2 separate regions of the Homo sapiens genome follow, and region 1 is linked to region 2. The links come from fine-mapping of genetic effects on gene expression. A gene starts in region 2. The other region holds a variant in brackets. All regions are shown on one strand. Distances are between the middles of the regions.

The links. PIP is the estimated chance that this variant, and not a neighbour inherited with it, causes the effect.
Region 1: its variant is fine-mapped to the expression of SELENOT in whole blood (INTERVAL, PIP 0.95).

Annotation. Positions count from the first base shown.
Region 1 is chr3:150,626,417-150,631,800 of GRCh38, reverse strand. SELENOT (selenoprotein T) reads right to left here. Exons shown (of 6, transcript NM_016275.5): 5 at 4,638-4,791; 6 at 1,365-4,142. The coding sequence ends at 4,667. Among named protein-coding and RNA genes, the nearest start is that of SELENOT, 26 kb to the right of the region's middle. The variant A/G (reference allele first, on the strand shown) is at 3,117.
Region 2 is chr3:150,601,310-150,606,693 of GRCh38, reverse strand. It overlaps SELENOT (selenoprotein T), which reads right to left and starts at 3,373. Exons shown (of 6, transcript NM_016275.5): 1 at 3,195-3,373. The coding sequence starts at 3,331. It overlaps LOC124900547 (a long non-coding RNA gene), which reads left to right and starts at 3,511. Exons shown (of 2, transcript XR_007096128.1): 1 at 3,511-3,750. RefSeq lists enhancers at 2,915-3,214, 2,489-3,262, 3,235-3,384, 3,505-3,584.

The DNA.
Region 1 (5,384 bases), 25 kb before region 2:
GAAACTCAGATCATCAGGTATTAGGTTCCACCTCAGATCATCAGGTATTAGGATTCTCATAAGGAGCGCACAACCTAGATCCCTCGCAGGCACTGTTCACAATAGGATTCTGGCTCCTATGAGAATCTAATGCACTGGTCTGACAGGAGGCAAAGCTCAGGAGGTAATGCTTGCTTGCCTGACACTCACCTGCTGGTGTGCGGCTGGTTTTCTAAGAGGCCACAGACCACCACCAGTCCATGGCCCAAGGACTGGGGACTCCTGGTATACACCACAGACTAACAGTATTAGAATTATTTTGAAGCTTGTTTGAAATGCAAATTACCTGGTACCATTTCAGATCAACTAAATCAGAACCATTAGGAGTGGGATCCAGAAATTTGTCCCAGTGATTTTTAAGCACATTAAAATTTTAAAACCACTACTGTTTGTCTGCATGCTTTTTTATTTTGCTCATGCTTAACATTGGCAAAAGAAAACATTCTGTTAGTCTTATAGAATGGATGACTTTACAGCTTTCTACTGTATCTGAAACCAGTTTATATTTTTCTTCAAGATACAGTTTGGAGCTGGGTTTTTTTTTTTTTTTTTTTTTTTTGAGGCAGGGTCTTGCCCTGTCACCTGCAGTGGTGCAATCTTGACTCACTGCAGCCTCAACCTCCTGGGCTCAAGCGATCCTGCTGTCTCAGCATCCCAAGTAGCTGGGCCTACAGGTGCATGCTACCATGCCTGGCTAATTTTTTTTTTGTAGAGATGGAGTTTCACCTTGTTGCCTAGGCTGGTCTTGAATTCCTCGGCTCAAGCAATCCACCCATCTTGGTCTCCCAGCCATGAGCCACTGCACCTGGGCTGTGGATCTATTTGTTTCTATTTGCTTTTCTGAAGCCTAGGGGAAAAGGAGCCAGCTGAATTAAAAAAAAAAAATCTGATATTTGCTCTTTCTTCTGAGATTGTTAAATTGTCTATACCAGTCAATAGAGGAAAAACATTCATTTTGTTTCTCTCCAGATTTAAGGATGTTAGTGTGAATGTTTCAGGAATTCTGCAGGTTGGGGGTAAAGACAGACAGTGATGTAAACTGTTCCACTTTGCTCCACTCCAGCACAGAATACATCACAGAGCTATTGACAGTTCAGCAGCACTGAAGCACAAGTAGACCGTAAGGCTTGAGAAGTAGCATAAGGTCCAAGAGTATGGTAAGACTTGAGTGCCAGACTGATAGTGAGTCATAAACACTGGTCGGGTTAAGAAGCCATTAAAAAGTAATGATAATAACTTTTATAATGCAAAATTTTGTGAGTATAGTTACCATATAAAGTGCTCTAATGTAGATTTAATTCCACAAAGTAGGAGTTCCTTTCAAATCAGCTTAATCAAAGTTTATTTTCACAATGCTACAGAGGTAAGTCCCCAAACTTTACAATCCTCATTTGTTTCTCTCAAAAAGATCTCTTTTTTTAAAAAAAAGGCTTTAGAATACCACACCATGTTTAAAATCCTGTAAGCTATTTTTGAAATCTAAATTAAATTCTGACAATGATAAAATGTTTGCCAGCCAATCAAAGTCCCAAACTAATTAACATTCAAAGTAAAAAAGAATCATCATTGGGATCTCATTATATTTTGATAGCTGTAAAGGCTGATTGACTCCTGTCATTAATAGTGTTAGTGTCATAAGCAAATAATATCACTTATATTCTAGAAAAGGAAATAAGCATATTTGTCTTGCACATCTTATACACTGAGGTATAAAACCATGTTTTACCAACTTTTTTTATTAATGTACCAAATAATTTCTTCCACAATGGCAACTGTGGTAAAAACCCCCATAGCATTAGCCAACCTGCTGGCATGTTCTATGGTCTTCTAATTAATATAGTGCACAGACATTTATAAACTACACAGCCACAGTAATTTACAAGTAACTAATAAATATTGAAATGCTGGGAATATAACAAAACTACATTCTAAATAGTTTACTTTCCCTTTTTCCTTATATTATTACTTTTATATTCATTCTTCCCACTCATTTTTTTCACTAGACTCTATTAAATTCAAGATTTAAATATGGCTAAGCGTAAGACAAAAGAGATGAGCGTCAACAACACAGCTGAATTTTATCAGTGTCTAAGCCACTTAAAGCTATTCTCCAAAAGATAAGTTATTCAACCCAAGGCAAACAGAGAAAGTTGGAATTGAATCCTAGGTTCTTTATATTTTTAACTGTCAGGTCCACAGGAACATCCAAGGCTCAAGTTTTGAATGTCTACATGTCATGAAGTTAACTATGGCACTAGTGGAATGTCGATTACTGAAGATGAACCCCTAGACACATTCAGCAAGACATTCAACTTGCAGAAGGCAGGGAATTTGGAGTGGTACACAATCAGATAACAAGGTTTCAAGCTCTAGTCAAAGACAAGATGATATTATACCTAAATAACAATTTCTAAGGAACTTGAATAACAATCTCTAAGGACTCTTGTCACTATATGAAGAACTTAAGTTTATGACTCCACACTCTTAATTAAAAGGACAGCCACTTAATCAATTTTCTGCAGTGAATTATTAGACTAACTTCCTAGCATCTGGAGATTACAGTATGTTCCACCTTGAAGCTATCACAATCAAGACCATTACCTGACATGCATTCAACAAATATTCGATGACAAACAAAGTATAAGGTTAATTGTTACAGAAAGTTAGGTCTTCTAACACCTAAGTGTTAAGTGGACTCAATGTTGAACCTTTTTGAGTGCCAACATGACACTCAAAGGAAATGCTCATGGAACATTTCAGATTTCAGATTTGGGATGCCCAACTGGTAAGTATAATGCAAATATTCCAAACTTTGAAAAAAATTATGAAATCTGAAATACTTCTTGTCCCAAGCATTTTTGGAAAAGGGATACTCAACCTGTACCTTATAACTTTTCCTAAATCACTTTTGGCTCTACCACTTCTATTCCTATATGGAAGCTGAAGTATGTTATTACTGCTGTTACATGACTACTCTTCTACATTCTGGTTCTATTTCTGCTAAATTATTCTTACAGTTTTTATCAACTTAAGTTTTTTAAAAAACTGCCTTTTTAGAACTCTGAAACAGTATTTAA[A/G]AATTAAATTTAAAAAATTTTAAGTTTTGTTCATCATATACAATAAAATTCTGATATATGATGTTAGACAAATTATTAGTCAGGTAATTTCTGTTCACCTAGTATCAATGCTATAAAGAGGTTCAAGTGAACTTTCTTTAGTGAGATGAGTTTCAATGATCCTAAAGATGGTAAATGAACGATTATTTGTGTATCTAAAGTGTGTACTCTTAAGAAATTATCCATAAATCAAAAACAAAAATTTAAGCAATTGTTAAATATAATGTTAACAGGTACACTGAGCAATAAATTGAAACTTTTAAATTTAACTCATATCTGCTTAGTTTTTTATTTAGTTAAGTATAAAGGCCCAGTTAATTAATCAATTCATTAGATTGGTCAAGGCATGACACTTTAACTACACAATAGGATTTAAAAAGCAGTTGGTTTTTTTAGTAGTTCTCTGGTAATCACACGCACATACACACATACACAAAAATTTATAGAGTACTCTGAATATAGGATTTCCCCCATAATCTTGCATCTGCTATATTTTGTAAACTGTATAAACTGGACATGGCCAAATTAGAGATGTCTGATAAACTCTTATAAAGTATTTGGGAACTTCAACTGGATTCCCAAAGGATCAATTTTAAACTATAAAAAACAAATATTCATATAAAAGCACAACAGATTTAACAGACATCTTTGGAAAAAAAATCAAATTGTAACTCAATTTTCTACTTTTTCAAATATGACTAAGAAAAAAAGTTACAAGTAGTAATGTTTACCTTAAAAAAAAAACACACACACACATTAACTGGGTGATTTTGTGGGAGGTGGGGAAAGCTATACAGTATTATTGCACTCCATGAATGTGCAGAATTCCAAAATATGCCAGCACTGAAACACTATCTTGCATTGAGGTTTTCCAAGAGGTACAACGAGCCTGCCAAGAAAGCATCTGGTCTGTACTAACAGCTTGCTGTCTTCAGTACAGGCCTTCATAATGTCAGTCACGCTGCTCTTGCAATGATCCCTTAATGCCTGAAAGATATACAGAAAAAAGAATATTTTATTGCAAAAATCACTCATAAAAACTCTTTAGAAAGTGAATTCATTGATCACAAAGAAAAAGTTAACTAATACCTCTCTGTGTTCACACATTTGCCTATAAATTTTTTATCTTGAGTATGTTCAAAGAATTTGCATACTCCCAGGAACTAATTACTTGAAGGTAAGGACAGGAAGTATACACACCTCTAGCATAATATATCAACTCTGGCCATTAGGAATTTAGAGTAAAGAAAATAAGGTTACAGACCCAATCATTAAGCCTTGAAGATAAAATTACTAACAACCTGACTTTATTTTGGCAGGGCCGAACTCTCTTCATACACTTCAACATTTTAATGAAGAATACATCCCTCTGTTTAATCTTAAATTGGAAACTCAAGTGATAATATATGTAATATTTACTAACTTGCTGAGTCATAAGAATCAACAGAAACCTATACATTAGCTATATTTTAAACAACTTACAAAAGAGTTTTCAGTGCTGATAGGTGGTGCTATGATCGATGGTGTGGGATTGAATCCATATGCACATTGAGCTTCATTTCATTGTCAAGAATTTGAACAAGTTGTTGCATGGATGGAAGGTGACCAGATTCCAGCTTAGACCACACAGGTACATCTATAAAAATAAATGGCACCGCCCCCCAAAAAATTAAAGATGATTTTATAATATGCATTCATCCCACTAATATTTATCATCTATGTACACAACTGGGATACAAAAGTAGGCAAAAAAGTACACTGCTTGCTCTCAGGGACTTTACATTCCAGTAGGGGAAATGTCAAAAGAACTACACAAATGGCTACAAAATTACAATTGTGTACTTAGAACTAAAACTAAAAGGCACTACTGTACTAGGAGGGACATATACACAAGGCTCTCCCTGTCTAGTCAGAGAAATAGTATCATTTAAATTGAGATCTAAAAGATAAAGAAAAATTACCAAGACAGAGTGGGGATTCATGAGAGTAGAAAACCTTTGAGGGAGAGAACAGAAATGTAAAGACCAGAAAGTAGCTTGGCACTGAAAATAAGAGAAAATCAGCATAGCTGAGGGAAATATAGAAGAGGAGTGATATAAGGGAGGATGGGAAGGTGGAAAGGATTAGACTGGGGTCAATAAACTGTAAAGGGACAGAAAGTAAACATTTTGGGCTAGGGAAGATACATAGTCTCTGCCACAGCTATTCAACTCTTGTAGCCTAAATGCA
Region 2 (5,384 bases):
TTGAGCCCAGGAGGCAGAGGTTGCAGTGAGCTGAGATCACACCACTGCACTCTAGCTTGGGCAACAAAGCAACACTGTCTCAAAAACAATGGAATTTTAAGCTCTGATTAGAGAACTTCCTTTTTCTATGTTAAGTGTTAAACGTCCAAATAAGCAGAATAAATTTTTTTCCAAGTATGAAGCCAATATAATCAAAAGTATCTAATTATATTGCTCAATCAACATAATAAACCACAGACTCAGATACACAAGTAATACTGTGCCAGTCTGGTAGACTTCTTGAGATGGTCACATCTTTAGCATGCTTAATTCCTGGCATACAGCAGGTATTACACACAGCCTGGGCAACAAGGCAAGACCAGGTCTCTACAAAAAATATGAAAATTAGCCAGGCGTGGTGGTGCGCGTCTGCAGTCCCAGCTACTTGGGAGGCTGTGGTGGGAGGATTATCGGAACTCAGGAAGTCAAGGCTCCGTGATCATGCCATTGCACTCCAAACTGGGTGACACAGCGGGACTCTGTCTCAGCAAAAAAAAAAAAAAAGGAAGAAAGAAAGGAAAAAAAAAAACGAGAATAGGAAACTCTGTCGTAAGCTACTCTACAAGCTTGATCTCTCAGCACTATGTTGCTATTGTGTTGACTAACAATTGCAAAAGTGGTACAATTACCAGGTGATATATTGAGGTATAGTTATTTTTGATAAAATACTCATGATCACTATAAGGGGAAAAAGTCAGTGGAAATGAAGGTAAAATAGTTCTCTTTTGATTGTTAGCAGTGGTAATTAATGAAAAGCTGCATTTTATAATACTGACTTCAAATGGAATTTTAAAATTCTCATGTTTATCCTCAAACGTATTAGCTTCCTGTCCTTTCTCAAACAAACTTGCAAATTAATGTCCACAAGATTCTAGCAAAACCAGAAACCCAATATTCACTTTACCATAAACAGATTAATCTCTGGGGGGAAAAGCAACAAACAACAAGCTAAGTTGATCTGTATTTGGTGGGTCTTATTAATAACGTTATTTCCCATCTACAGATTAAACAAAAAATGATCTCCGGTGGATAGTGTCAGAAAAATAAAAATAAAAATAATTTTTTAAATGGAAGCATTTTTGTTATATAACATGCTCAGAGTGACTGTAAAAGAAAATTATTAGACTTTTGGGACAGGTCTGTACTTAAAAACAAAGAAAAACAAAGTATCAAAAGTTTAACTGAAGTACTTACTACTTTTTTTTTAAGTTTAATTTGAAGGACTGAATGCCCTTCCCTACGTTTGTTTACACATTTTGAAAACCTTGCTATGAATAGCCTTGGTGGAAGATACACCTGGTAAATTATTGTGACAAGTGTTCCAAAAAAAGCAAACGTAAAAGGGGTATTTTGGAAAAGCAAAAATACAACCAAGAGATAAAAGTAGGATACAGAAAAATTAAATAATTTGAAAACTGCAATTTTTTAACACTTAAATCCGTAAGTATCACAACCCTTAACAATCTTTAGGTTAGTAAGATGATTACCACCTTCTAATTTAAAAATTAAGGAAAAAAGTTAATGGATAAACCATTCTCCCATTTGCAGTATTACATGAAAGATGATATATTCCAGAAACATAGTACATTGTACAGGGAGGTTTTTTTTTTTTTTTTTGAGACGGAGTTTCGCTCTTGTTGCCCAGGCTGGAGTGCAATGGCGCGTTCTCGGCTCACCGCAACCTCCGCTTCCCGGGTTCAAGCGATTCTCCTGCCTCAGCCTCCCAAGTAGTTGGGATTACAGGCATGCGCCACCACGCCAGGCTAATTTTTGTATTTTTAGTAGAGATGGGGGTTTCTCCATGTTGGTCAGGCTGGTCTCGAACTCCCGACCTCAGGTGATCCGCTAGCCTCGGCCTCCAAAGTGCTGGGATTACAGGCGTGAGCCAGCGAGCCCGGCCTTGTTTGTTTTTAATCAGGAGAAATTGCAATGTTTTAGTTTTCACTCAAAAAAATAAAGTCTCACCATCTTATTTTCTAACTCAAACATCACCTTAAGCCGATTTTTAAAAATTATTTTAAAGGTTTGCTTGGTCTTCAGTGAGTAAGTAAAAAGCTAGTTGGAGAAGTAGAAAATCAAAACTTTAATATACTAATACATGAAGTTCTTAAAAGAAGGTTTTAAATGAATGATGTCCAACACCAACATTCCAATGTATCCGGACTCTGATGATTTACTAATCTGGCTATTCTGGGATGGTCGGTTTATCCTGAGAAAATGTCATCTTTGGAGGTGTAAGATTCTCATTTCTATAATTTTACAATTTTGGTGTTTTTTCCCCCATCTTCAGAGCCTTTCAATCCCCACCCGCAACCCCACTTACCGTATAAAATGCATCATTGCCCTGCTTCTAACGATTAGGTTAAAAACAAAATCATTTAAAGAACACTGTCGAAAACTGCCGAGATCTGCTGGATACACAAGACAACTGAAAGGTAGAAAGAGATGCCAGAGCAGGCAACTCCTGGGAGGCAGGTGAGGAGGGAATGCGAGCGAACTGTCAATGTTTAGAAGAACAACGTGCTCCTTTTCTGACACTTTGGAAATGGCAAACAGAACCAGCATCCCCAGACCTTCCTTCCACCCCCTCCAGCTGTCAGACGCCCCATTCGCAAACTCAACAGTCCCCCCAGCAAGTTCAGGAGAAAAACGGCGTCTGTCACTCCCGGATCCTCTCCAATGACCCGAATTAACCTTCATCTAGCCAGGCAGCGAAGCCGCCCGGCATTACCCCGGAAAAGAGGGCAGAAAAAGTGAACTGACAAACGGTTGGCGCTCCTCCGCCGACGCGGCGCCTACTCATCCCCATCTCCGCAGGCAGCCGGGGTGGCTATGGCGTGACGCCGCCAACCAGTCCTCCGTACTAACAGGTGTCCCCCAGTCTTCGCCTTTCAGCGTTTAACCTTCTCGCGCCCTCCTTCCCCATTCCCACTGTTCTAGGAGGCAAAAAACAAGTGAGCAGTTATACCTGGAAAAGGAGGGCGGCCTGACCGCGCTAAGGGGCCGCGAGAAGGCTGGCTGTGGAAGGGCGCCGGCACAGTTCTACGAGGCCAGCGAAGATGCGGCCATTTAGGCCGCGAAGCCGGGGCCTCGCGTAGCCAATGGCGCCGAGCAGAGGCGCGGCGGGGTGGCCGGGGCCCAGTGCACATACTCACCAAATCTGGAACTTGAGCAGCGGCCCCGTGGCGTACTGCATCTTTAATCTCTTGCTGGGCACGCCGCCCAGATTGGCCGAGGCCTCGCTCCGGACCATCGCAGACGCCGCCACTAGGAGAAGCAGCAGAAGCCTCATCTTAAATGAGCCAGCCACTTCGGCCGCCCTCAGACAGACTGCAGCCAGCCCAAAGCCCAGGAGCGAGCTGCTCCCCACTGCGCAGGCGCGATCAGCCAAGGTCGGGGGAGGGGAGCAGTAATGCGCCTGCGCGGCCCGGCGCCCGCGCACACTCCTGGAGTGAAGAGCCGACCTGTTTCACTGTCCTGACTCACCACCATCTTGGTAGTGTGCAAGACTCTGGGACGGCATGAGAAAGGCAGAAAGGGAGCAAAGGAGCTGGTGGGGTGTCACAGGGCCTATGTATGAGGCAGATGTGAGTTCTGCATCCAGTTTTGCAATTTATCCATTTACCTGCCTGAGACTTGGAAACACCTACTTTATAGTCCTGATTCAAGTGTTGGCGGATGGAAGGGAGGAGACTCCTGACCCTCAGAATGGTAATGCTGAAATTTTTTGGGTGCGCTGTTATGGCCTTTTCTTTGATCTTACAATATTGCTTTCTCCTGAAAGAATATTAAACATAAGTTTTAGGAAACCTTTGGACAATTCCAAACATATCCAAAAATAGAATAACTACCTTAGCAAGCTTTAACAGTTACTATACATTTTGACAATCTTGATTTGTCTATATCTCTAAACACTTCTTCCCTTCCTAGGCATATTTGGAAGCAAATCTCAGACATCATATCATTTCATCTGTATATATATATTTTTAAACACGGTCTCACTGTCACCCAGGCTGGAGTTCAGTGGCGTGATCATAGCTTACTGCAGCCTCACACCCCTGGGCTCAAGCAGTCCTGCCTCAGCTTCCCAAGTGGTTAGGAATACAGGCACAGGCAACTATGCCTGGCTTACAATTATTTAAGCACATATTTCTAAAAAAGAATTATTATTAAAAAGAAAAAAAATTGACCACAGTGTTTCACATGTCCGTGTGAAGAGACTACCAAACAGGCTTTGTGTGAGCAACACAGCTGTTTATTTCACCTGGGTGCAAGCGGGCCGAGTCCGAAAAGGGAGTCAGCAAAGGGTGGTGGGATTATCATTGGTTCTTATAGGTTTTGGGATAGGCGGTGGAGTTAAGAGCAATATTTTGGGGGCAGGGGTTGGATCTCACAAAGTACATTCTCAAGGGTGGGGAGAATTACAAAGAACCTTCTTAAGGGTGGGGGAGATTACTGATCAACAAAGTACATTGATCAGTTAGGGTGGGGCAGAAACAAATCACAATGGTGGAATGTTATCAGTTAAGGCTATTTTCACTTCTGTGGATCTTCAGTTGCTTCAGGCCATCTGGATGTATATGTGCAGGTCACTGGGGATATGATGGCTTAGCTTAGGCTCAGAGGCCTGACATTCCTGTCTTCTTATATTAATAAGAAAAATAAAACAAAATAGTGGTAAAGTGTTGGGGCAGCGAAAATTTTTGGGGGTGGTATGGAGAGATAATAGGCGATGTTTCTCAGGGCTGCTTCGAGCGAGATTAGGGGCGGCGTGGGAACCCACAGTGGGAGAGATTCAACTGAAGAAAGATTTGGGGGTAAGGGGTGATATTGTGGGGTTGTTAGAAGGAGCATTTGTCGTATAGAATTATTGGAGATGGCCTGGATGCAGTTTTGTATGAATTGAGAAACTAAATGAAAGACACAAGGTCCGAATAAAAGAAGGAGAAAAATAGGTATTAAAGGACTAAGAATTGGGAGTACCCAGGACATCCAATTAGAGAGTGTCCAAGGGGGTTCAACGTTGTTGTCTGCTTGGTTGGAGAGTTTTTGGGCTCTATCTCTATCCTTAAGTTTTTTTATGTTGTCATATACCAGGCCAGATTGATTTAGGTAAAAACAACACTCTTCATTTAAAAATATACAAAGTCCTCCTTTTTCAGCAGTGAGTAAGTCGAGGCTTCAGTGATTTTCAAGGAAAGAGAGGAGGTGGGAAGGCCAAACTGAGGAATTATGTCTGACAGAAGGGAAGAAATGACCGCGGTGGCCTTCTTAGACCCTGTGGGAAAGGCCTCTACCCACCCAGTGAAATGTCTACCCAAACCAAGAGGTATTTTAGTTTCCTG